Linked DNA regions of Homo sapiens: regions 1, 2 and 4 are each linked to region 3. The links come from fine-mapping of genetic effects on gene expression. A gene starts in region 3. Each other region holds a variant in brackets. All regions are shown on one strand. Distances are from middle to middle. Region 1 has its middle 24 kb from the start of STOML1. Region 2 has its middle 32 kb from the start of LOXL1-AS1. Region 3 holds the start of PML (PML nuclear body scaffold). Region 4 overlaps PML (PML nuclear body scaffold).

The links. PIP is the estimated chance that this variant, and not a neighbour inherited with it, causes the effect.
Region 1: its variant is fine-mapped to the expression of PML in whole blood (INTERVAL, PIP 0.93).
Region 2: its variant is fine-mapped to the expression of PML in whole blood (TOPMed, PIP above 0.99).
Region 4: its variant is fine-mapped to the expression of PML in whole blood (INTERVAL, PIP 0.96).

The regions. Positions count from the first base shown.
Region 1 is chr15:73,965,095-73,971,504 of GRCh38, forward strand. No RefSeq gene overlaps it. Among named protein-coding and RNA genes, the nearest start is that of STOML1, 24 kb to the right of the region's middle. RefSeq lists a silencer at 832-981. The variant A/AG (reference allele first, on the strand shown) is at 2,947.
Region 2 is chr15:73,956,755-73,963,164 of GRCh38, forward strand. No RefSeq gene overlaps it. Among named protein-coding and RNA genes, the nearest start is that of LOXL1-AS1, 32 kb to the left of the region's middle. RefSeq lists an enhancer at 1-1,185. The variant T/C (reference allele first, on the strand shown) is at 3,313.
Region 3 is chr15:73,991,889-73,996,888 of GRCh38, forward strand. It overlaps PML (PML nuclear body scaffold), which reads left to right and starts at 2,828. Exons shown (of 9, transcript NM_033238.3): 1 at 2,828-3,053. The coding sequence starts at 2,925. It overlaps STOML1 (stomatin like 1), which reads right to left and starts at 407. Exons shown (of 7, transcript NM_004809.5): 1 at 203-407. The coding sequence starts at 335. RefSeq lists a silencer at 74-633 and an enhancer at 3,241-3,410.
Region 4 is chr15:74,015,732-74,022,141 of GRCh38, forward strand. All of the region lies in intron 2 of PML (PML nuclear body scaffold), which reads left to right. Among named protein-coding and RNA genes, the nearest start is that of PML, 24 kb to the left of the region's middle. RefSeq lists a silencer at 3,458-3,628. The variant C/CA (reference allele first, on the strand shown) is at 2,591.

The DNA of each region.
Region 1 (6,410 bases), 26 kb before region 3:
CTGTCGTGCCTTCTATCTCCTGTGGGTTTAACACAGGAGAGTGCGTCCTGCGCCTCCCACAGGGGCAAGTGGTGTTTACTTTGATCCTGCCCCAGAAGCAGTGGATCTTCGTTTCTGCCTCTCCCGCAGCAGCCCTGGGGCCAGAGAGTGCAGCCTCCCACGTGGTTTTGCCCAGAGAGAATCGTCCTGGGGAAGCAGGTGGGGGTCGCTGCACAGCAGTCAATCACCGCTTGAGTGCTTGTGCCACCAGCAAGGGGGAGGGGTCTCTCCCGGCTCCCCCTCTGCCTCCAGTCTTTTTCCTGCAGTGAAGGCCTGTGCAAAAAGCTCAGAAGGCAGGGCAGACTCCCTCCTGCCCACCACATGCTCTGCCCAAGACAGTTGGTCTTGCCTTTCCTTGGAGGGGCTTGTCACTCTTTGGAATTCAGTTCTCTTGGTTGCCTGCCACCTCAGCTATCTGACTGGTTTAAGAAATTATGGTTTTGCAAATTATCTGGTGTTTTGTTATTGTTAGAGTCGGGGGGCGGGGTGGTTCATTCCTGTACTCCCAGCACTTTCGGGGGTGAGGTGGGTGGACCCTTTGAGCCCTGGAGTTCAAGACCAGCCAGCCTGAGCAACATGGGGAAACCCTGTCTCTACAAAAAAAAAAAAAAAAAAAAAAAAAAAATTAGCCAGACATGGCGACAGGAGCCTGTAGTCCCAGCTACTCAGGAGGCTGAGGTGGGATGATCACTGGAGCCCCCCCAGAAAAGAATGGGAATGATGTTCCCTTGTGGTTTTTCTATATCCTAAGAGGAAATAAAACACTCTTCTCTTTCACTTTTAACATATGCAAATGAGTGACTCTAAATGCCTTCTAGGGCAATGTCTCATGGCTTACAGTGCCTCGTGGTTTTTCTCATTTCTTTCATGATTGCAGCTGTATTTGCTACCACTTGTGCAGCTGACATTTACCAAGCCCTTACTGTGTTCCAGCATGCTTTCATTTAGAACCATCCCTGACTCCTCTTTTCTCTCAAACCCACGTTCAATTTGTCAGATAATCCTGTTGGCCCCATGTTCAAAATATAACCAGTTCCTTTCAAAAATAAAAATGGACTTATCATAAAACCCGGCAATTGCACTGTCATGCATTTTTCCCAGAGAAATGAAAACTTATTTTCATGGTGGAACTTGTACACAAATGTTCATAGAAGCTTTATTTATAATAGCCCTAAACCAGAAAATACTCACAAACTATGGTATATTCATACCACAGGATACTATTCTGCTGTAGAAGGAATGAACTATTGGTACAAGCAACAACTTGGATGAACTTTTGCTGAGTGAAAAAGCCAGCCTCAAAAGGATACATCACTGCATGATTCTATTTACACGGCAAATAATATAATTAGAGAGGGAATAGACTAGTGGTTGTCAGGAGTTAGGAATGTGTATTAGTCCGTTCTCCTCTTTCTATAAAGAAATACCTGAGACTGGGTAATTTATAAAGACAAAAGGTTTAATTGGCTCATGGTTCTGCAGTCTGTACAGGAAGCGTGGTGGCTTCAGCTTCTGGGGAGGCCTCAGGGAACTTACAACCATGGGGAGGGCAAAGGAGGAGGCAGGCACCACTTACATGGCCAGAGCAGGAGGAAAAGAGATGGGAGGTGCTACACACTTTTGAACAACTAGATCTCATGGTGCTAATCCATTCATGAGAACTCCACCCGGTTTGGTGGGGACCCAGATCAGTACCATATCAGAAGGGAGGGGAGGGTGTGGCTGTAAAGGGGTTACACGAGAGGCTTTGTGGTGATGGTACAGTTGAGCACCTCGGTCATTCTGGTGGCTACTCCAGGCTACACATAGGGCAAATTTACATAGAGCTACTTTGTGGTTGGCTGGGTGCGACGGCTCACATCTGTAATTCCAGCACTTTGGGAGGCTGAGGTGGGGGGATGACGAGGTCAGGAGGTCGAGACCAACCTGGCCAACACGGTGAAACCCCGTCTCTACTAAAAATACAAAAATTAGCCGGGTGTGGCAGTGTGTGCCTGTAATCCCAGCTACTCAGGAGGCTGAGGCAGAAGAATTGCTTTAACCCGGGAGGAGGAGGTTGCAGTGAGCCAAGATTGTGCCACTGCACTTCAGCCTGAAAACAGAGTGAGACTCTGTCTCAAAAAAAAAAAAAAAAAAAAGCTTTTTTGTGGTCTTTGTGCTGATACCAAATAAGTGGTATCATTTCCAACACCAATCGATTTTCTGCTTCTGTGATACCAATTGGGTGTTCAATAATTCAATTCTATTCTGATACTAACCTGGAGTTAGTGTCAGACTCCACAGGCTGAAGGGCTCAGTCCCATAAGACTACCCCCATTTCTCCCAGGCGCAGTGGCTCACACCTGTAATCCCAGCACTTTGGGAGGCTGAGGCGGGCGGATCACCTGAGGTCAGGAGTTCGAGACCAGCCTGGCCAACATGGTGAAACCCTGTCTCTACTAAAAATACAAAAATTAGCCAGGCCTGGTGGCGGGCACCTGTAATCCCAGCTACTCGGGAGGCTGAGGCAGAAGAATTGCTTGAACCCAGGAGGTGGAGGTTGCAGTGAGCTGAGGTCACGCCATTGCACTCCAGCCTGGGCAACAAGAGTGAAACTCCATCTCAAAAAAAAAAAAAATGGCTGGGTGTGGTGGCTCATGCCTGTAATCCCAGAACTTTGGGAAGCCGAGGCAGGCGGATCACCTGAGGTCAGGAGTTCGAGTCCAGCCTGGCCAACATGGTGAAACCTCATCTCTACTAAAAGTACAAAAATTAGCCAGGAGTGGTGGCGAGTGCCTGTAATCCCAGCTACTTGGGGGGCTGAGACAGGATAATTGCTTGAACCCAGAGGCGGAGGTTGTGTGAGCCGAGATCGTGCCACTGCACTCCAGCCTGGGTGACAGAGTGAGACTCGATGTCTCCAAAAAA[A/AG]CAAAACAAAACAAAACAAAACTACCCCCATTTCACATGCCAGTCACAAGTACTGGGTCCCCAGGTTACCCACACTTCTGTCCAGCCAACTACAAATTTGGAGGTTCCCGTGACCTCCATTCCTCAGGTTTGATAATTTGCTAGAATGGCTCACAGAACTCAAAAAAACACATTACTTCACCATTACTGGTCTATTGTAAAAGATACAACTCAGGAACAGCCAAGTGAAGAGATGCATAGGACTGGGTATTGTAGGGTGGGTGTGCAGAGCCTCCCTGCCTGCTCTGGGCGTCACCCCTCCAGCATCTCCATGTGTTCCAACCCAGAAGCTCTCCAAACTCCATTGTTTTGGAACTTTATGAAGGTTCCATTACAGAGGCATGATTGATGAAATCATTGGTCATTGGTGACTGAACTCCATCCCTAGCCACTGTCCACTCCCTGGAGGTCAGAGAGTGAGGCTGAAAGTTCCAACTCTCTCATCATCAATCATGGCTTAGTCTTTCTGATCAGCAGCCTGTATCCAGAAACTATTTAGGGTCCTCATTAACATAAGCTCAGGTATGGTTGAAAGGGGTTTGTTATGAATAACAAAACATCACTGTAACTCAGGAAATTTTAGGAGGGTTTTAAAAGATCTGTGCCAAGAACCAGGGACAAAGGCCAACTCTATTTTTCTCACTATATACATGATTTCCCATTTCCTACAGGCACACACAAACACACACACAAATGGGTGCGTGCATAACTGGTTAGATCTGAATAAACTCAATGGATTGTGCCGATGTTCCATTTCTTCGTTTTGATACTGTACTCTGGTTATGTGAGTTGTTCGCATGAGAGGTAGGGAACATGGGACTTCTCTCTACATTCCTTTGTGACCTTCTGTGACCCTACAATTATTTCAAAATTAACAACTTAGAATACAAATAACCAGAGTCCACCTCCCGCCCTGCTACCAGCCTGGTCCACACCACTCTCTTTTCTTGCCTGGATTATTGCAACAGCCGCTTTTTTTTTTTTTTTTTTTTTTTTTTTTTTTTTTTTTTTGAGATGGAGTCTTGGAACAGTTTCTTAATGGGTCTGCTTTTACATACAATCTATTCTCAATAAAGCAGCTTCGTAAGACAGATCCTACCATTTGTAGAAATAAACAAAAACCATTCAGAGCTTGCTGTAGCAAGGTTGTCAGCCAGCATCACTTGCATTTTTGTAGGGACTCAAAATCAGGCTGAGCCTTATTGTCGGTGGGCCGGGGGTAGGGGTGCGGGAAAGGAGGTGGGGGAAGGCTTGGGGTGTGCCCTGATTGGAGGCTATTGGCCTGGAGAAGCTGGGTGGGATAATTTGGAGGGGATTCTGAGATTGGCTGGGGAGGGGTGGGTGCATATTTGGCTTTCTCTTGCTGGCCCTAAGTTGGAAGCTGGGACAAAAATTAGGGAAGCTGCCAGTTTTTAATCAAGTCCTGGCCTTTCGGGGCTGATTGTTAGAGAAGTTATTGTTTTGCTTCCTGGATGGCTACTGGAGATAGTGATCTGGCTTCCTTCATGTCTGACTTATAGCAGACTGGCATCCTGGGCTGTGGATTCCAGATGAGGGGGTTGGTTTCCTGGGCAGCTTGCTGCAGGTTAGGCTCAGAGTTCTAGTTTCCACAGGGTCTGGCCATGGTGCACGTGTATGTTCAGTCCCTCATGTTCCTCTGCTTAGAACCCTGCAGGGGCTCCCACTGAACACAGCCCTTCCTGTGGCCTACCAGGCCCTACATGAGCTGGCCCCATTTCCCCTCTGGCCTGGTCTTCTGCCACTCTCCTCCCTCTCTCCATCCCAGCCACAATGGCCTCCTTGCTGTTCTAGAACATGCCAGGCCCTCTCCCAAGGCATTCATGGCCTTCTAACATACTGTATGCCTTTCTTATTTTTCTCTCTCTCTCTGTTTCTCACTCTCTCTCTCTCTATATATATATATGTATATACGTACGTATATACCTATATGTATATACATATACACACACACACACACACACATATATATATGTGTGTGAGACAGAGACTCACTCTGTTGCCCAGGCTTGGAGTGCAGTGGTGTGGTCCTAGCTCACTGCAGCCTCAAACTCCCGGGCTCAAGCTATCCTCCCACCTCAGCCTCCCAAAGAGCTGGGATTACAAGCAGGAGTCAATGCACCCGGCCTCCTTTCTGATTTTTAATGCTTATTGCTTATGTCTAGCTCTCACAACTAGAATGTAAATTCCACAAGGACAGGGTTCTTGGTGGGTTTGTTCCCTACTATATCCTTGGCACCTAGAACATTGCCTTGCCCAGCACATAGTGAGTGCCCAATAAAAAATGTTTGAGTGAATCAATGAGTTTGTGCGTACATGTGTGCAGATACATTTACTAACATCTACTACTTCTAATTAGGTGCTCAGTGTTTACTAGACACTATGCTAAGTGCTTTCATCTAGTATCTAATTTTTATTCTTCATAGCTTTCCTATGGGTAGGTGACATCAGGCCACTTATCTTTCAGGTAAAGTGGTCTCAGAGGACATGCTGAAAGCCCATGAGCTTCTCAGGGACCTAAATAAATGTTTAAAACCTGAGAAAAGTCTTGGCTCCAAAATGTAAAAACTACAGAATCATCCAAATTAATAAATGTTTAATCAAATGTCTACAAAGTGTCATCGATTGTTAATTTATGTCATTAATTCTCTATTGGCCTCTTTAATTATTAAATGCAGTGTTCATAAGAATTTCATTACTTTTGAAAAGAATTTGTAGACTAGATGTTAACTCTTGGAGCACAGTCATGTATCTGTTAACCACAGGAATACCATCAGAAAAATGTGTCATTAGGTGATTTCAATGTTGTACAAACATCAGAGAGTGTCCTTACACACTCTGTGATGTGTAGCCTGCTACACACTTAGGCTATAAGAGATAGACTATTGCTCCTAGGCTACAAACCTGTACAGCACGTGACTGTACCGAATACTGTAGGCAATTATAATACAATAATAAGTATTTGTGTATCTAAACATAGCTAAACATAGAAAAGGCACAGTAAAAATATCATATAAAATATTTAAAATGTACACCTGTTTAGGGTACTTACCATGAATGGAGCTTGCAGGACTGGAAGTTGCTCTGGGTGAGTCCGTGAGTGAGTGGTGAATGAATGTGGAGGCCTAGGACAATACTGTACACTACTGTAGACTTTAAAGACACTGTCACCTAGGCTACTACACTAAGTTTATTAAAAATATTATTCTTTGGCAGGGCGCGGTGGCTCACGCCTGTAATCCCTGCACTTTGGGAGGCCGAGGTGGGTGAATCACCTGAGGTCAGGGGCTCGAGACCTGCCTGGTCAACATGGTGAAACCCCATCTCTACTAAAAATACAAAAAATTAGCCAGGCATGGTGGTGGGCACCTGTAATCCCAGCTACCAGGGAGACTGAGGCAAGAGAA
Region 2 (6,410 bases), 34 kb before region 3:
CTCCTGCCAGGCTCTCCACCCATTTGTGGTCAAGGCAAGAGAGACCACACCCCCTTGAATGTCCAGGCACTGAGTCCCTGCCGGCTACTCATACGGATGGGCCCTCCCCAGCCATTCCTCACCACGGCTGCGTCCGGATCCACACCACAACCACAGCATTGTTGGAAAGCAACTGCACACCTCCCTGCAACTTCCCCTCGCATCCCCCAGACTGAGTCATGCAGGCGGTGCCCGTGGGCAGACCTGGCCAGGGTTGGCACCAGCTGGCCAGAGAGAATGAGAGGCACTGACCACACCCAGGAACCTCGCTAAAGCCCATGCATAAGGGTCAGGAGAGCAGCCAGATGCTGGGACCCAAGGGTGCCTGTGACACACACCACCCTGAAAGTTGCAGCTGAGCTTTTCTGAGAAGGATGGCAAAGTCCTGGAAAAGCTTTAACGACAAAACTCAACATATGGAAGGCAGAGGAAGCAGGTAAGGATTCTGGTCTCCTTTTATGTGAAATAGCTTTAAAAAAAACTTTTTCAAAATCACGTTTAATATGCGTTGAGCCCCCTGGCTACCAGGTGGGAAAGTCAAAGTCCTGAATCATTTACTCCCACCCTAGACACCTTGAACTTCAGAACTTCAGAGAGGAGTCCTGTGGTCTTTAGTCCTCCTGGTCACCGCTCCCTGGCTGATTCACTCTCCTCCAGGGGCGGTGTCTCCACTTCCTGCAAAGCTTGGGCACATGGGCAGCCATGTCCCTCGAGGTTCGCCACCTCCCCAGGGCACTGCCAGGAGGCACTGTCCTCGTTACTAGCAGAGCCAGAGCCACCACCACAACCATAGCCACCACCTCCCCAGCCCAGGGAACTCTCCCAGCCTCTTTCCTCGGCCTGTCTTCACTCCCTTCTAACTACTCACTCTTTTCCTCTTCCTCTCTGGGGCAACCTTCCATCATCCCTGCCATGTGCCTTGGTTCAAGGAATCAGCTTTGGATTCTGGCCCTTAAGATGAGGAGTCACAAGTACCTCCTAGGAATGAGAAAGAGGAAAAGACCTAGCAGGGGAATGCCAATAATATTAGTGACACTCACTAATTTCTTCAACACTTAGCCATGGGCCAGGCCCTGCTCTAAATGCTCTACAAAGGTTAAGCCCATTTAATCCTCACAAGAACTCTATGAGGGAGACACTGTCATTCCCATTTTGTAGATGGACAAACTGAGGCACAGAGAAGTCATGTGACTTGCCCTAGTTCCGTCAGCTAGTGAATGGGAGAGCCAGAATTCCAACACAGGCACATTTCTGGAGACAGGGCATAGGTTCCTCCAGATCCTCAAAGGCATGTGGGACCAGGAAAGAAGCCATAGGTCTGTGCTCTGAAACATGGCAAGAACACTGTTCAAACCATCCCATCATCTCCTTCCTCCACGAGTCCTCTAGAATCATGTGTGGCTCCTGGAAACCGCAGCTTGAAAAGGATTGGTGAGAAGCCTAATTCCTCCTAGAAGTAGTGTGGTAGTGTAATTCAGACTTAGATTGTTCTTTATGGGTGAGAGAGAGGGCAAATTACAATAGATAAACTGGCTGGGTGCCGTGGCTCATGCCTGTAATCTCAGCACTTTGGGAGCCTGAGGTGGGTGGATCGTTTGAGCCCAGGAGTCTGAGATCAGCCTGGGAAACATGGTGAAACCCTGTCTCTACAAAATACACAAAAATTAGCGGGGCTTGGTGGTGCACGCCTATAGTCTCAGCTATCTGGGAGGCTGAGGTGGGAGGATTGCTTGAGCTCAGGAAGTGGAGGTTGCAGTGAGTTGAGATTGTGCTGCCGTACTCCAGCCTGGGCAACAGAGTGAAGCCCTGTCTCAAAAATAAATAAATAAATCATCGGCTAGTCAACAAAATATTAATAGAAAAATATGGGATTAGAAGGGATAAGAACACAGCCATGGAGATGACTTTTGAAATTGAAGAAACTAGTGCATGCTTATAAATTGGAGTGTCCCAACATTAAATAATAATTTTCTAGTATTTCTAAATTGCCAAAATTGACTCGAGTGAAAAGCACAAAAAGACCAATTACCACAGAAGAAAATTTAAAAATTATCATCTCTAAGAAAGACACCAGCCCTAGGGAGTTTTAGCATGAGTTATTTCAAACTGGAAGAACAGTGAATTTCTGTGTTATGTAAACTCTTCCAGAGCATATGGGGAAAATGCTGAATTGATTTTATGCTTCTGAATTGATTTTATTAAGCTAATCCTAACACCAAACTCTGATAAAGATTGCTATCCTGCGCCACCCACCCTCACGCTGATAACCACAGACCAATTTTACTCCTGGCTGTGAATACAGAAGTCCTGGATAAAATGCCACCAGTGGAATCCTGTACCATTGTAATACCAGATGCAGCCCGTGTTTGGCATGCTTTCCCCTCCACCAGATGTGTGCTAGGGCAAAACTGGAACCTGATATCTGGGTCCAGGCAATTTGGACACAACATTCACTTCTGTGGTCCTAAGCGCCCCCTCTCAGGAAGCAAAGAGTAAAATGAAGCAGGTGTCCAAAGCTTGCAAATATGCAGAAAGGCTACAGCTTGGATTACTGCTGTTGACTGGCAACATAGTTAACCACAATATCCTGTTAGAGTGATCATTCATCATTTCTTTTTTTTGTTTGTTTTGAGACTGAGTCTCTTTCTGTCGCCAGGCTAGAGTGCAGTGGCGCTGTCTCGACTCAGTGCAACCTCCATCTCCCGGGTTCAAGCAATTCTCCTGCCTCAGCCTTCTGAGTAGCTGGGACTACAGGTGCCTGCTGCCATGCCCAGCTAATTTTTTTATTTTTAGTAGAGATGGGGCTTCACCATGTTGGCCAGGCTGGTCTCAAACTCCTGACCTCAAATGATCCACTCGCCTCGGCCTCCCAAGGTGCTGGGATTACAGGTGTGAACCATCATGCCCGGCTGTTATTTCTTTTCCTTGCTGAGAAGTTCTTAAGTATTTTTTGTGCTTTTTTTCCTTTTTATGGTAGGTGGCTACCTTCTCTACCTTTTCCCTGCAGGGTTTGATAACATGATTGAATAAGCAAGTCCTAATAAATGCCCTCTTTGCTGTATCAACATGCATACCCCCGAAAACTTGGGAAACAGTGCCTGTCGTGCCCTGGGAAACCGAATCCTGGGCCCAAGGGACATGATCCAGCTGGTAGTGCCCCTGTGCCAGGTGAGAAAAAGAGACCTTGCCCTCTGCTGGAGTTGCAGCAGCCTGGGAGCTTCTCAGCCAGGGAACAGATCATCGCTGCAGCTGGAGGACACCCTATTTCAGATA[T/C]GTGACATCAGAGGCCATCTCATTTCTGATTCACAGCCATTGCCCCTTCCACTTCTTCACAAAAATTCAAGTATATTAAGAAATACATATTTTTTTGAGACGAGGTCTCACTCTGTCGCCCAGGCTGGAGTGCAGATCATGGCTCACTGCAGCCTCGACCTCCTTGGGCTCAGGCAATCCTCCCACCTCAGCCTCCCAAGTGGCTGGAACTAGAGGCACGTGTCACCATGCCTGGCTAATTTTATTTATTTATTTTTTGTATTTTTTTGCGGAGACAGGGTTTCGCCATGTTGCCCAGTCTGGTCTCAAACTTCTGAGCTCAAGTAATCCTCCTGCCTCTGCCTCCCAAAATGCTGGGATTACAGGCATGAGCCACAGTGTCTGGCAAAGAAATAATCTGCATACAGCAAAATTTACCCTTTTTAGGTGAACAGTTTGATGAGTTTTGACAAATATATGCAGTGATATAAATACCCCCACAGTGAAGATGTAATACCTCCATCACTCAGGACTTCCCTCTTGCCTCTTTGTGCTCCGTTTTCTACCTCCCACCTCCAGCCCCCGGCAACCACTAAGCTGTTTTCTGTTTCTGTAGTTTTGTCTTTTCCAGAATCTCAAATATGTGGAACCACATAGTATGTGGCCTTCTATATCTGGCTTGCTTCACTTAACATAATGCTTTTTTAATTTAAATTTTATTTTTATTTATTTATTTTTGAGACTGAGTCTCACTTTGTGGCCCAGGCTGGAATGCAGTGGCGTGATCTTGGCTCACTGCAACCTCCGCCTGCCAGGTTCAAGCAATTCTCCTGTCTCAGCCTCCCAAGTAGCTGGGATTACAGGCACACACCACCATGCCTGGCTAATTTTTTATATTTTTAGTAGAGGCGGGGTTTCGCCATGCTGGCCAGTCTGGTCTCCAAATCCTGACCTTGTGATCTGCCTGCCTTGGCCTCTCAAAGTGCTAGGATTACAGGCAGGAGCCACCGTGCCAGGCCTATTTTTCATTTTTGAGACAGTCTCACCCTGTTGCCCAGGCTGAAGTGCAGTGGTGCAATCTTAGCTCACTGCAACCTCTGTCTCCCGGGTTCAAACGATTCTCCTACCTCAGCCTCCTGAGTAGCTGAGATTACAGGTGCCCACCACCACGCCTGGCTAATTTCTGTATTTTTAGCAGAGACAGGTTTTCTCCACGTTTGCCAGGCTGGTCTCTCAAGTGATCCGCCCACCTCGGCCTCCAAAGTACTGGGATTAGAGGCATGGGCCTCTGCACCCGGCCTAATCTTATTTTTAATTGTAAACTGACAAATAACAGTTGTATCTATGGAGTATGAAGTGATGTTATGATGTATTAATATGATGTTGAATAATCAAACTGAGCTAATTAACATATCCATCACCTCAAATACTGTTCTTATTTTTTGTAGTAAGAACATTTGGAATTTATTCTGTTGATAATTTTGAAATGTACATTATTTAAGATATTTGACCAGGGGTGGTGGCACATGCCTGTAATCCAAACACTTTGGGAGGCCAAGGCAGGCGGATCACTTGAGCTCAGGAGTTCAAGACCAGCCTGGGCAACATGGTGAAACACTGTCTCTACAAAAAACACAACAATTAGCTAGGGATGGTGGTGGGCACTTGTAGTCCCAGCTGCTCAGAAGGCAGGGATGGGAGGATCACCTGAGCCCAGGAGTTTGAGGCTGTAGTGAATTATGGTCTAGCCACTGCACTCCAACTTGGGTGACAGAGGGAGATCTTGTCTGAAAACAAAAAACAAAAACAAAGTGGCTACATGCTCACCAGACACATTATATCCTCTTTTTTTTTTTTTTTTTTTTTTTTTTTTTTTTTTTTTTTTTTTGAGACGGAGTCTCACTCTGTTGCCAGGCTTGAGTACAGTGGTGCAATCTCGGCTCAGTGCAACTTCTGCCCCCTGGGTTCAAGCGATTCTCCTGCCTCAGCTTCCCAAGTAGCTAGGACTACAGACACGTGCCACCACACCTGGCTAGTTTTTGTATTTTTAGTAGAGACAGGGTTTCACCATGTTGGCCAGGATGGTCTCAATCTCTTGACCTCGTGATCCGCCTGCCTCAATCTCCCAAAATGCTGGGATTACAGGCATGAGCCACTGTGCCTGGCCTGTATCCTCTTTTTAAAAGCCATTCTAGTAGGTATCCTGTGGCAGTCATCTTTCCATATTCCTGGGGACTGATTCCAGGACTCCTGAAAATAGGAAACCCCGGGCATGCTCAAGTCCCTGATATAAAATAGTGCAGCGTTTGCATATAACCCAGGCACATAACCCGCTCTACTTTAATTTATCTCTAGATTACTTATGATCCCTAATATAATTTAAATGCTATGTAAATCGTTGTTATGCTGTATTGTTTTTATTTGTATTGTTTTTATTGTTGTATTGTTATTTTTTTCAATATTTTTTATCTGTGTGTTCACTGTGCAGTTGGTTGAATCCGTGGATGTGGAACCCGTAGATACCGAGGGCTGACTGTATTTCATTCTGGTTTAAATTTTCATTTCCCTAGTGACTAACAATGTTGAGCATGTGTTCATGTGGTTGTTTGCCAGGATATCTCTTCTTTGATGAAATTTCTGTTCAGATCCTTTGCCCATTTTTAATTGGCTTGTTTGTCTCATTATTGAGTTGGAAGAATTCTTTATCTATTCTGGATACAAGTTATTCATCAGTGATATGTTTTGCAAATATTTTTTCCCAATCTGTCGTTTGTCTTCTCATTTTTTACTAGTACCTTCTAAAGAGCGGAAGTTTTTAATTTTGATAAGAGCCAATTTATCGGTTTTTTTTCCTTTTATGGGCTGTGTTTTTTGTCCTATCTAAATCTTAACTTAAACAATGTCACAAAGATTTTCTGTAAGCACTGCAATAAATGGTATCCCATGAGTTTTTAGGACTAAGTTCTAATTTTTGATTTTGCCCAAATTTCTATCTAAGGGATCTAGGGAGTCATGCCCTACAAATCCTAAATTCTCATCAGATGGGTTTTATTTATATATTGTGACTTACTTTTCAATCTGACTCTGGTATAACATTACGAGACAAGGAAAAAATATTT
Region 3 (5,000 bases):
AAGCCCCATGACCCTAGGGAGGGCGGATCGGCGCTAGCACCAGGCGCCGGGTCCAGCCCCCTCTCCACATCGTATCCCTTTCTCAGTCCCCCCTCGTAGGGTGCGACGGCACCGGGCCGGCCGACTCCTCGGAGGCAGAGATTCGGGCCTGGGGGTTGCCGGCCGGTCCCCCCCGGCTCCGCCGTGCCAGGCGGCCACTCACCGGCCCCTGTCCCCACGCCGCCCCGCTCCGGGGACAAGCAGCCCTTCTGCGAGCCCAGAAAGCCGAAGCTCGACTGCTGGAAGCGGTCAAAATCACCCAGGGGCAGCGCCCGGTACCCAGACCTGCCGAGCATGGCTTTTGACAGGAGACACGCCCCGCGCCTCCGCGCGGCGCCCTCCCTGGCCAGTGGGCCCTACGCGGCCCCGCCCTCCTGGCTGCTGCTTCCGGCTTCACCCGCGCGGCCACCCGCGGCGGCGCGGGCGCAGGAAGAGGAGGCCGGCCGGGGCCCGCTTCCGCCGTCGCATGGCTCCCCCTGCGCTGGGAGGACCGAACTGCAGCCCAGGGCTACTGGGTGTGATCGGCGTTCCTCGGACCCCGCTGGGGTCATCGCCTCCTCCCCTCTTCTCCTACTCAGCCCTAGAAAAGCTGGAGGGGAAGCTGGGCACGGTGGCTCACTCCTATAATCCATCAATTTGGGAGACTCAGGCAGGAGGATCGCTTGAGGCCAGGAATTCAGGACCATCCTGAGCAACATAGTGAGAGCCCATCTCTACAAAAAATTTTTAAAAATTAGCCTGGCGTGGGATGCCTGCCTGTGGTCCCAGCCACTTGGGAGGCTGAGGCGGGAGGATCTCTTGAGTCCAGGAGTTTGAGGCTGCAGTGAGCTATGATCGTGCCACTGCACTGCAGTCGGAGCGAGAGAGCAAGATCTCATCAGGGTTTACAGGAAGCCAATCTTCTCCAGGATCAAGGACATGCTATATCAGCCTTCTCAGCACTCCTTCTCTCACACTGGAGGCAGGACATGCCATATCTGGACTTTGGGTTTCTCTGGGACATAGTCTGCAAATTATTCCTCTTTGTGAACCCACAGCCCAGCAAGCAGGGACTGGCATAGGGCAGGTCTCAATACTTATTTGTTAAGTAATGGCCTGGCCAGGTCACCGTGATCAAGGTGGAGTAGGAAGGCCTGAACTTTGGCACAAAAAGAAAGAAGTTTCACATGCAGACTTCGGGGAGCATGGGAGTGTAAGGAAGAAGGGGATAGCACAGAGCTACATGAGGGCAGGGGCCCCAGAGCACCACAGAGGTGAGGCCCTCAGTCCTGCAGGTCCAGAAAGAGCATGCCCCTTGATCCAGGTACCTGGAATTAACTTGCCTCTCCAGGGCTTGAGAAAACCTGAATGCAACTCGTGAATTTCCTTTGAGAAGTGTTAACTTCCAACAGGACTTTGGGGTAGTCTGGGAGCAGGCTATCTTCCAAAGCAAGCAAAGAAATGAATAAAGCTTCCCCAGCTCTGCCTCCTCAGCCAATCGCCTCTGGCCTCCGAAGCCCCATCCTGCCATAGCCCACTTCCAGGTCCCTTGTGCAGATGGCTGCCCACCATATTTGGCTTTCATGGACTGATTCTCTAAAGGCCTGGGAGTACTGACCAGGCTGGAGGGAAGGGCAGGCTCCTGAGGCCTTACAGTCCCTAGGAAGTTGCGTATCTGCCCAACCCCTGCTCTCCACCCTGCAGACTGTAAGGTTTACAAGAGCCAGGCCCTATCATCATCCTTTCTAGTCTGTTTCTAAGTTGGAACAGAGTACGGAATGGGTACACAGGAGCCAGCACAGTGGTTGCGATGGTTTAAGTTTGAAGCCGGGGCGCTGACCCAGTGAGGTCACCTGGAACTGTGCCCCTTTCCCCTTACCAGCTGGGAGTCTGACATGCTTTTCCATTGGCGAAGACCTAGCTGGCTCTCCCCTCACCCTCTTCATACCCGCTCTCCAGCTCTCCCCCTCCCTCCTGCCCCCACCACCTCAGATCCACCAGCCTTTCCAGCTGTCACTCAAGGCATCATCCTGCTCCCTCACCTCCAGTCACTGGCTTCCCAGGATCTCTGAATCAAGTCCCTCCTCTGCATCCCACAGCCACTGTCCTAGACCAGGGCACCTGCTCCTAGGTTGTCAGAGTGACTGTCCCATCATGCACAGCTGATCGTGTTGTTCCCTGGTTCCAAATCCTTCAGCAACTTCCCATCACTCACAGAACTGGTTCAATCTCCTCAGCTAGGATCTTGTCCTAGCACACTCCTTGGGTATCATTTCTCATGAATTCCCTCTTAAATCTGAAAATGGCCAAAATTAGTTCCCAAACAGGCTTTTGCAAGAGCTATCTTTTCTGTTTCAAGTGTCCCCCGTACCCCACCACCTACAACCCTAAATCCCTGGTGAATTTCCACTGCTTTTGCAGGTCCCAGCTGTGGGCTCTCCTTTCCAGAATGTCTCCGTTTGCAGGCTTGCTCTTCCATTACATCTACGGCTCTTAGAAAGCAGGGGCTGCGTGTGGCTCATCTTTGTACGCCCAGCTCCCGGCAGGACGTGGCACGAAGCAGTGCCAGTGTGAACGGATGAATGGATCAAAGCCGGGAGCAGGGCTGCCCCCCTGCAGCTCTGCCCTACCTCTCCCGCTTTACCGTAAGTCAGCGGTAGGTCTGCAGCTCTCCGCCTCTACCTCCTCCCCGCTCTGGGCGTGTCTTTAAAACCCACAGTCGGCCTCTCTGCCCCCTAGAACCGCCCCCAGCTTCTGTCTCACTTCCTCTCCAGAGGCGGGCCCTGAGCCGGCACCTCCCCTTTCGGACAGCTCAAGGGACTCAGCCAACTGGCTCACGCCTCCCCTTCAGCTTCTCTTCACGCACTCCAAGATCTAAACCGAGAATCGAAACTAAGCTGGGGTCCATGGAGCCTGCACCCGCCCGATCTCCGAGGCCCCAGCAGGACCCCGCCCGGCCCCAGGAGCCCACCATGCCTCCCCCCGAGACCCCCTCTGAAGGCCGCCAGCCCAGCCCCAGCCCCAGCCCTACAGAGGTACTATTGGGTTAGGGGATGATGGGGTTAAGCTTTGTTGGTTTGCTGTGGTGGGGAGAGGCGGGAAGAGAGGGTCTAACGGAGGATTTGGTCAAGTACCCTAGAGAGTGACACAAAGCGGGAAGTCCAGACACCAGGGTCCTGACCGTCTCGGGTGGGGCAGGGAAGGGAGGGTAGGATAGAGTAGAAAAGAGGACACGGAGGAGTTGGGGCGGCCTCGCTGGGCTGCGGTTTCTCCACTGAGCAGTTGGGCAAGGTGAGAAGGGTCAGTGGCCTCCGGGCCTGGGCCCTTCCGCCCACCCTCGAGCCCTGCCTCAACTTTGCCTCAGATGCAGGACTTCAGATTAGGGAGGATGGAGGTAGTACCCCTGTTGCGCTGGCCTGGAGCCAGGGGCATGTCCCAGGCACGGCAAAACTAAAACCAACTTCCCAGATCCGAGGTGAGAAACTGGCTCAGACTGAAGAGGTATCTTTGCCAAGGCCTCCCAGCTCATGTGGTTTCTGCTTAAGGAAGCCTCCCCAACGAACCCTTCTCTTGCCACACCTTTCCTGCCCACCTCCCACCTCCCCCGACAAAGGAACTACTTGGGTTTCTTGCTCTGCTGCCTTTCAGGCCCTTTTACTCCCCTTCATGAAAGTACAGAGGACACCGTATTACAGTAACTTTTATAAACATTATTACAACTAAGAATAACATTACTTAACAATACTAGGTAACATTTATGAGCACTTCAAATGTGCCAGGTACTGTATTAAGCACTTTGGTTTTTTTTTGTTGTTGTTTGTTTGTTTTGCTTTGTTTTTTGTTTGTTTGTTTATCTGTTTGTTTTTGAGACGGAGTCTCACACTGTCGCCCAGGCTGGAGTGCAATGGTGCGATCTCGGCTCACTGCAACCTCCTCCTTCCGGGTTCACGCCATTCTCCTGCCTCAGCCTCCCGAGTAGCTGGGATTACAGGCCACGCCACCATACCTGGCTATTTTTTATATTTTTAGTAGAGATGGGGTTTCACTATGTTGGCCAGATTGGTCTCTAACTCCTGACCTCGTGATCCACCCACCTCGGCCTCCCAAAGTGCTGGGATTACAGGCATGAGCCACCATGCCCGGCCTGTTTTTGTATTTTACAAAATGTGGTAAAATATACCTAATGGATAAGTTCCTATGTTAACCATTTATAAGTGTACCATTCAGTGGCATTAAGTAGATTCACAATATTGTGTAACCATCACCACCATCTATTTCCAGAACTTTTTCATTACTCCAGAAACTCTGTACTCTTTAAACCATAGGGGAGGGAAAGATGGCTTGCCTCCACCCTTCTAGTTTCCTTGGCTGGGCTATGAATTAAATAGCCTATGAATTAAATAGTCATAAAATAGATTACCAGCGGAAAACCCATATTTAATTACATATGTATACTCAGGAGTCCCACAATATATGAGACTCAAAGAAAGGTCAGATGATTGAAGCCTGTATAACATCCTGAGCTACGGAAAAGAGCTTGGAGCTTCTGGGTGATGGTGATAACACAAGTTATGGGAGGGTGAGGAGAGGAGCTGTTTGGTGAATAGAGGTTGTCTTGCTATGTAGATTAAAAGTTCTTAGATAATAAAAGTTGTCTGGAGCAGCCCTCTTTTAATATAGATCATTTTACTAATGTAGATTTTCTTTTAAGATATAAATGCCTTTCTTTTTTACAAAAGGAGAGCTTTTCAGAGCTATTCCTGTATCAGCAGTTTCTCAGAATAACCAGCTTAAAATATGCCAAAGAAGTATATTTCAAGAGCCTCCTGCAGTCATACTTTGAAGTGGTGTGTCCTGAGCCCCAGTAATGCAATAGCTCCTCATTTTCTCCTTCCCCTAGCCCTTGGTAACTTCTAATCTACCTTCTGTCCCTATGAACTTACTTATTCTAGATATTTCATGTAAGTGGAATTGTTACCAGT
Region 4 (6,410 bases), 25 kb after region 3:
TAGCACTGTGCTGAGTCCTTCACATACACCAGCCTGTCTTTGTGCTTGTAACAGTCTATAAGGGAAGCATTATTACTCCCATTCTACAGGTGGGGAAATTAAGACTCAGAGAGAAAAGGTAATTTGCTCAAGGCCTTGTAGCTAGAAATTTGGAAGAGCTAACACATACCACTCTTGGCATAGCAGTTTAGACATGGACAGCTTTAGGATGGGGAGACTGAGAACCCAGGAAACACGTTGAGGCTTCTATTAAAATACACTACTCGGCCAGGCGAGATGGCTCATGCCTGTAATCCCAGCAATTTGGGAGGCCGAGGTGGGCAGATCACGAGGTCAAGAGATTGAGACCATCCTGGCCAACATGGTGAAACCCTGTGTCTACTAAAAATACAAAAATTAGCTGAGTGTGGTGGTGCACGCCTATAGTCCCAGCTACTCAGGAGGCTGAGGCAGGAGAATCACTTGAACCCAGGAGGCAGAGGTTGCAATGAGCCGAGATTGCCCCACTTTACTCCAGCCTGGTAACAGAGCGAGACTCCATCTCAAAATAAATAAATAAATAAAAATAAATAAATAAAATAAAATACACTACTCAGGAGGCTGAGGTGAGAAGATCACATGAGCCCAAGAATTCAAGTCCAGCCTGGGCAACATAGCAAGACCCTGTCTCTGAAAAAAAAATTAACAGTGTGGCTATTTCACTGAATAATCATAAAGGGATAAATGAAACAATACATCCCAGAGACGAGAAAGAGCTTTGTTGTAATACCTAGATGGGATGTTCTTTGAGTGTTCCCCATTGCTTCCTATTTAAAGTCCAAACTCCTTTACTTAGAATTGATTATAGAAAGTTTAGGAAAATCTAAATAGGTGAAAAGGAGGGATGAGAGAAAGAGGAAACTACTATCACTCTAGACCTTTTCCTTTCCTTTTTGCTATCTCTGTGATCATCTAAAACAAAATGAACAACATTTAGTGTTGTATAACTTGCTTTTCTTATAAATAGTCATGAAGATCTTTCAAAAAAATATACAGTTTTGAATTTTTTAGGCAGTGGCATCTTTTTTTTTTTTTTTTTTTTTTGAGATGGAGTCTCGCTCTGTCGCCCAGGCTGGAGTGCAGTGGTGCGATCTTGGCTCACTGCAAGCTCCGCCTCCCGGGTTCATGCCATTCTCCTGCCTCAGCCTCCTGAGTAGCTGGGACTACAGGCACATGCCACCATGCCCGGCCAATTTTTTGTATTTTTTAGTAGAGATGGGGTTTCACCATGTTAGCCAGGATGGTCTCGATCTCCTGACCTCGTGATCCACCCACCTCGGCCTCCCAAAGTGCTGGGATTACAGGCATGAGCCGCCGCGCCCGGCCGGGCAGTGGCATCTATTGATTGTATGGTTTCTTTTATTTCTTCAGTAATTATAGTGTCTTTACTATGGTGAGAGTAAATAGTCCACTGTGTTTTCTCCTTCGAGATGTAATTTTACACATTTAACTTTGTGATTCATTGGAAGCATATATGGGTATGAAACAAGAAGCAAGGCTCTAACTTCATTCCTGCCCCCTACCCTCCTCCCTAGCCAATTTCTCTGATTCCAATTGTTGAAAACCCCTTTAATGTCCATCAGTTTGGGCTGCTGGCTGGGCGCAGTGGCTCACGCCTGTGATCCCAGCACTTTGGGAGGCAGGGGCTGGCGGATCACCTGAGGTCAGGAGATCGAGACCAGCCTGGCCGGCATGGTGAAACCCTGTCTCTACTGAAAATACAAAAGAATTAGCCAGGTGTGGTGGCGTACACCTGTAGTTCCGGCTGCTTGGGAGGCTGAGGCAGGAGAATCGCTTGAACCCAGGAGGTGGAGGTTGCAATGAGTTGAGATCACGCCACTGCACTCCAGCTTGGGTGACACAGTGAGACTCTCTCAAAAAGAAAAAAGAGAAAAAGATGGGTTGCTTTCTTTGTTATATAAAATATTACATTTCTATAGATGCCAGGGACTACATCAGGCCTATCTGGTCTGTTCTACTGATCCTTCTCTTGACTCTTGAACTAGTACCATATTCTCTTAATAATGGCATTTCTATAATGTGTTATCCCTTCCTTACACTGATTCCTCAAACATTTCTTAGCAGCTGGTCATAGTGGCTTAGGCCTGAAATCGCAGCACTTTTGGGGCCAAGGTGGAAGGATGACTTGAGCCCAGGAGTTTGAGACCAGCCTGGGCAAAATGTTGAGACTCTGTCTCTATAAAATTAAAAATTTTTTTCTTAGCTATTTTATCTGTTTGTTCCTTCATATGAAATTTAGAAACCTAGCCAGGCGTGGTGGCTCACGCCTGTAATCCCAGCACTTCTGGGAGGCTGAGGCGGGTGGATCACCTGAGATCAGGAGTTCGAGACCAGCCTGGCCAACATGGTGAAACCCCAGCTCTACTAAAAATACAAAAAAAATTAGCCAGGCATGGTGGCTCACACCTGTAGTCCCAGCTACTTGGGAGGCTGAGGCACAAGAATCACTTGAACCAGGGAGGCAGAGATTGCAGTGAGCCAAGATTGTGCCACTGCACTCCAGCCTGGGCAACAGAGTGAGACTCAGTCT[C/CA]AAAAAAAAAAAAAAAGAAAAGAAAAAGAAAGAAAAGAAATTTAGAATACTTTGGTTAAGTTTCAAAAATAATTTAAATTGCCTTAAACCTGTTTATTAACTCAAGGAGAATTAATAATCTTATAATATTTAGTCTTATCTCTTAGTAGGTTTTTGTCATTTTCTAGGTATTTTGTACCTTCTTTTTTTTAATTTAAAAAAAGTTTTTTAGAGATGGAGTTCTTGCTGAGTTGCCCAGGCTGGCCTGGAACTCCTGGGTGTAGGCAATCCTCTCACCACAGCCTCCCTAGTAGCTGGGACTATAGGCACACAATCATGGCTTTGTAGAATTTTTTAAATAGCTGCTGTGAATGGGAAGATGGATTTTTTTCCCATATTTCTTCTCATTTGCTTTGCTAAGATAGAATTATGCTATTTTTCTTTCTTAATTATTATGTAATCTAGCCACTTTGGTGAGCAATTTCTTATTAAGTTAGTGGTGTTTTTGCTTATTGTTTTGAGTATTCCAGAAGCAAATAGATGTTATTTCGCCTTTCTGAAGATACGGTTAAGTCTGGGTTCTTGTCACGGAGCCCTTCTGGGCAGTTTCCCACTTCACCTCTGCCTCCTCCAAAGTGCCAAGCACGCAGCAGGTACTCAGTGAGTGTCCTCTGAATGAAGGTAAAGGAACCGCTTGGCTAAGGTCATTCCTGGCCCTGGGTGGCAGCCCTTTGATTCAGGATCTGCACCTCAGTCTTACCAGAGGGCTGGGGGCTTTTAGACCCAGGTGTCTGATTCAGGCTAGCCACCTCACAGACACTTGCCGCCCATTTCCATCTAGAGGGAAAGCAGGGGCCAGTCACCCTAGGGAGACCCCATTCAGGACAAAAGAAGCTTAGAAAAAGGACCCAGCGGAGGCTATGGCCATCCAGAACGTCTTGCTCTCTATCCAGCCAGGCTGCCTGAGGCGTGCCCTTCCAGGCTTGGAACCCTGTCTCCAAGGAAGGGGATCCAACATCAGACACAGCCCCTCTCCCCAAGTGTCCAAGATCCAAAGGGGGAAAATAACAACTGTTTCTTATTCTCTTCCCTTTATTCCTATACCCTATAGAATTGCCCACATTTATTAGTATTCTGTTTTTTAATTTCAAAAAAAGGAATACATTCATACATTCACAAGGCTCAAACATAATCTAAAAAGGTATGCAGTGAATGTCTTACTCTACCCTCATTCCACCCATCCCATAGCCACTTTTATTAATTTGCATGTCCTTTTAATATTTATTTATTCAAATACAATCAACTATGAAGATATTCTTATTTTTCCCCATTCTTACACAAAAGGTAGCATCTGATACACACATTTCTGCACCTTGATTTCTAACTTAAAATATATATCATAATAATACAAATAGTTAGCATTTATTGAACACTCATTGTATGCCAGTCATTTTTCAAACTTTTATCCATATATTAACTCATTTAATCCTTCCAGTACTCCTATTATTAACCTCATTTCTCCATGGAGAATTTTCCTTATCAGTATATAAAGAGCTTCCTCAATGGCTTACAGCTACATAGTATTCCGTTGTATGGGTGGATCATAATTTATGTAACTAATTGCCTTGTGAGGGACACGTGGGTGGCTTCTAATTCTTTGCTATTGTGGACTGTGCTGCAGTGAATATATTGTATGGATATCATCTTGTTATGTGTAGAGATAGAGCTGCAGAGCAGATCCAAAGAAAGAGGATTGCTGGGTTAAATGCATTTGTAATTCTGATGGGTATTGCCAAATTGCCTTCTGTAGAGTTATTAGTTCTTTTCATAATTGCTTAGTATTTCTAATTAAACGTAGCATTGATGAGCACTATGTATCAGTCTGGCTGGCTAGTAGGCTCTCTGTTGGTGGTTCCAGAACAAGTTGATCTCAGTGTAGTCCCAGATGAGACCCTTTCTTCTGGCCTCAGGTGGGCTGACTTATTCCTTTTTTTTTTTTTTTTTTTTGAGATGGAGTCTTGCTCTGTTGGCCAGGCTGGAGTACAGTGGTGCAATTTTGGCTTACTGTAACCTCCACCTCCTGGGTTCAAGCAGTTCTCCCACCTCAGCCTCCCAAGTAGCTGGGATTACAGGCGCACACCACCAAGACTTATTCTTATCACTGCCGGTGAGAGTAAATTACAGCAATATTTCTGGGGAACTAACAGTATTTTCCCTGGTAATATTTGAAGAAGCAGCCTTGTAATGGTTAAGAACATGGACTCTAAGCTGGACTGCCTGGGTTTTTATATTTTCTTTCGCTGCTGTAACAAACTACCACAAATTTAGGGGCTTAAAACAATGTAAATGTATTCTGTTATGGTTCTGGAGGTAAGAAGTCTGAAACAGGTCTCACTGAGGTATATAAAGGTGTCAGCAGGCTTTGCTCCTTTGGGAGGCTCTCAGGGAGAACGTTTTCTTGCCTTTCCCAGCTTCTAGAGGCTGCCCACATTCCTTGGTGCATGGCCCCTTTCTGTCTTCAAAGCCGGCAACATCACAACATTCCCACCTCTGCATTCATCACATCACATCTCCTCTCATTCTCCTGCCTCCCTGCCCTTTCCTTTGAAAGGATTCACGTGATTACGTTGAACCCACCCAGATAATCTAGAATAATCTCTTTATCTCAAAGTCCTTAATTGAATAACACCTGCAAAGACCCTTTTGCCATAGTAAGGTGACATATTCACAGGTCTCAGGAATTTGCACGTGGACATCTTTAGAGGCCACTATTCTGCTACTACAGTTTGCATCTAGACTCTACCACTTACTAATCGTGTGATCTTGAACAAATTATTTTGCCTCTTGCACCAGTTTTCTCATCCTTAAAATGGGGATAATAATGGTATCTATTCCACTGGATTGTCAGGAGGATTGAATGAGTAAATATTTGCCAATGCTTATAATAGTATCTGAGACACAATAAATGCTATGGAAGTATCTGCTAGCTAAAATATATTAACCAGGCCAGGCACGGTGGCTCACACCTGTAATCCCAGCACTTTGGGAGGCTGGGGCGGGTGGATCACCTGAGGTCGGGAGTTCAAGACCAGCCTGACCAACATGGAGAAACCTCGTCTCTACTAAAAATACAAAATTAGCCGGGGTGGTGGCGCATGCTTGTAATCCCAGCTACTCGGGAGGCTGAGGCAGGAGAATTGCTTGAACCCGGGAGGCAGAGGTTGCGGTAAGCTGAGATGGTGCCATTGCACTCCAGCCTGGGCAACAAGAGCGAAACTCCATCTCAAAAAAAAAATAACCAAATAAAAATATTAAAATACAAACACTTTGATCTAGCAGGCCTATATTTATAATCTATTTCATAGGAACAAAAGCTTCCATGATTAGGCTATATAACTTGGATATTACTAAAGTGTTGTCCATATTGGCACCAAAAGAAAAAAAAAAGGAAAGGAAAACGAAAGAAAGAAAATGCACAAACAGGAAATTACCTGAATGCCAGCAAAACGACAGTGATTGAATCAATTGTGGCCCATCTGGGATATACCAGAGCTATTAAAGAGAATACATCTGATCTGTGCCTATGCACCTAGAGGAATGCTCTGAGTGAAAGTTCGTTGAGAGGAGGAAGTTCAAAGTAATTATATGACTTGATTTATTTCTTTCTTTTTTTTGAGACGGAGTTTTGCTCTTGTTGCCCAGGCTGGAGTGCAATGGCACCATCTGGGCTCACCGCAGCCTCCGCCTCCCGGGTTCAAGCAATTCTCCTGCCTCAGCCTCCTGAGTAGCTGGGATTACAGGCATGCGGCAACACACCCGGCTAATTTTGTATTTTTAGTAG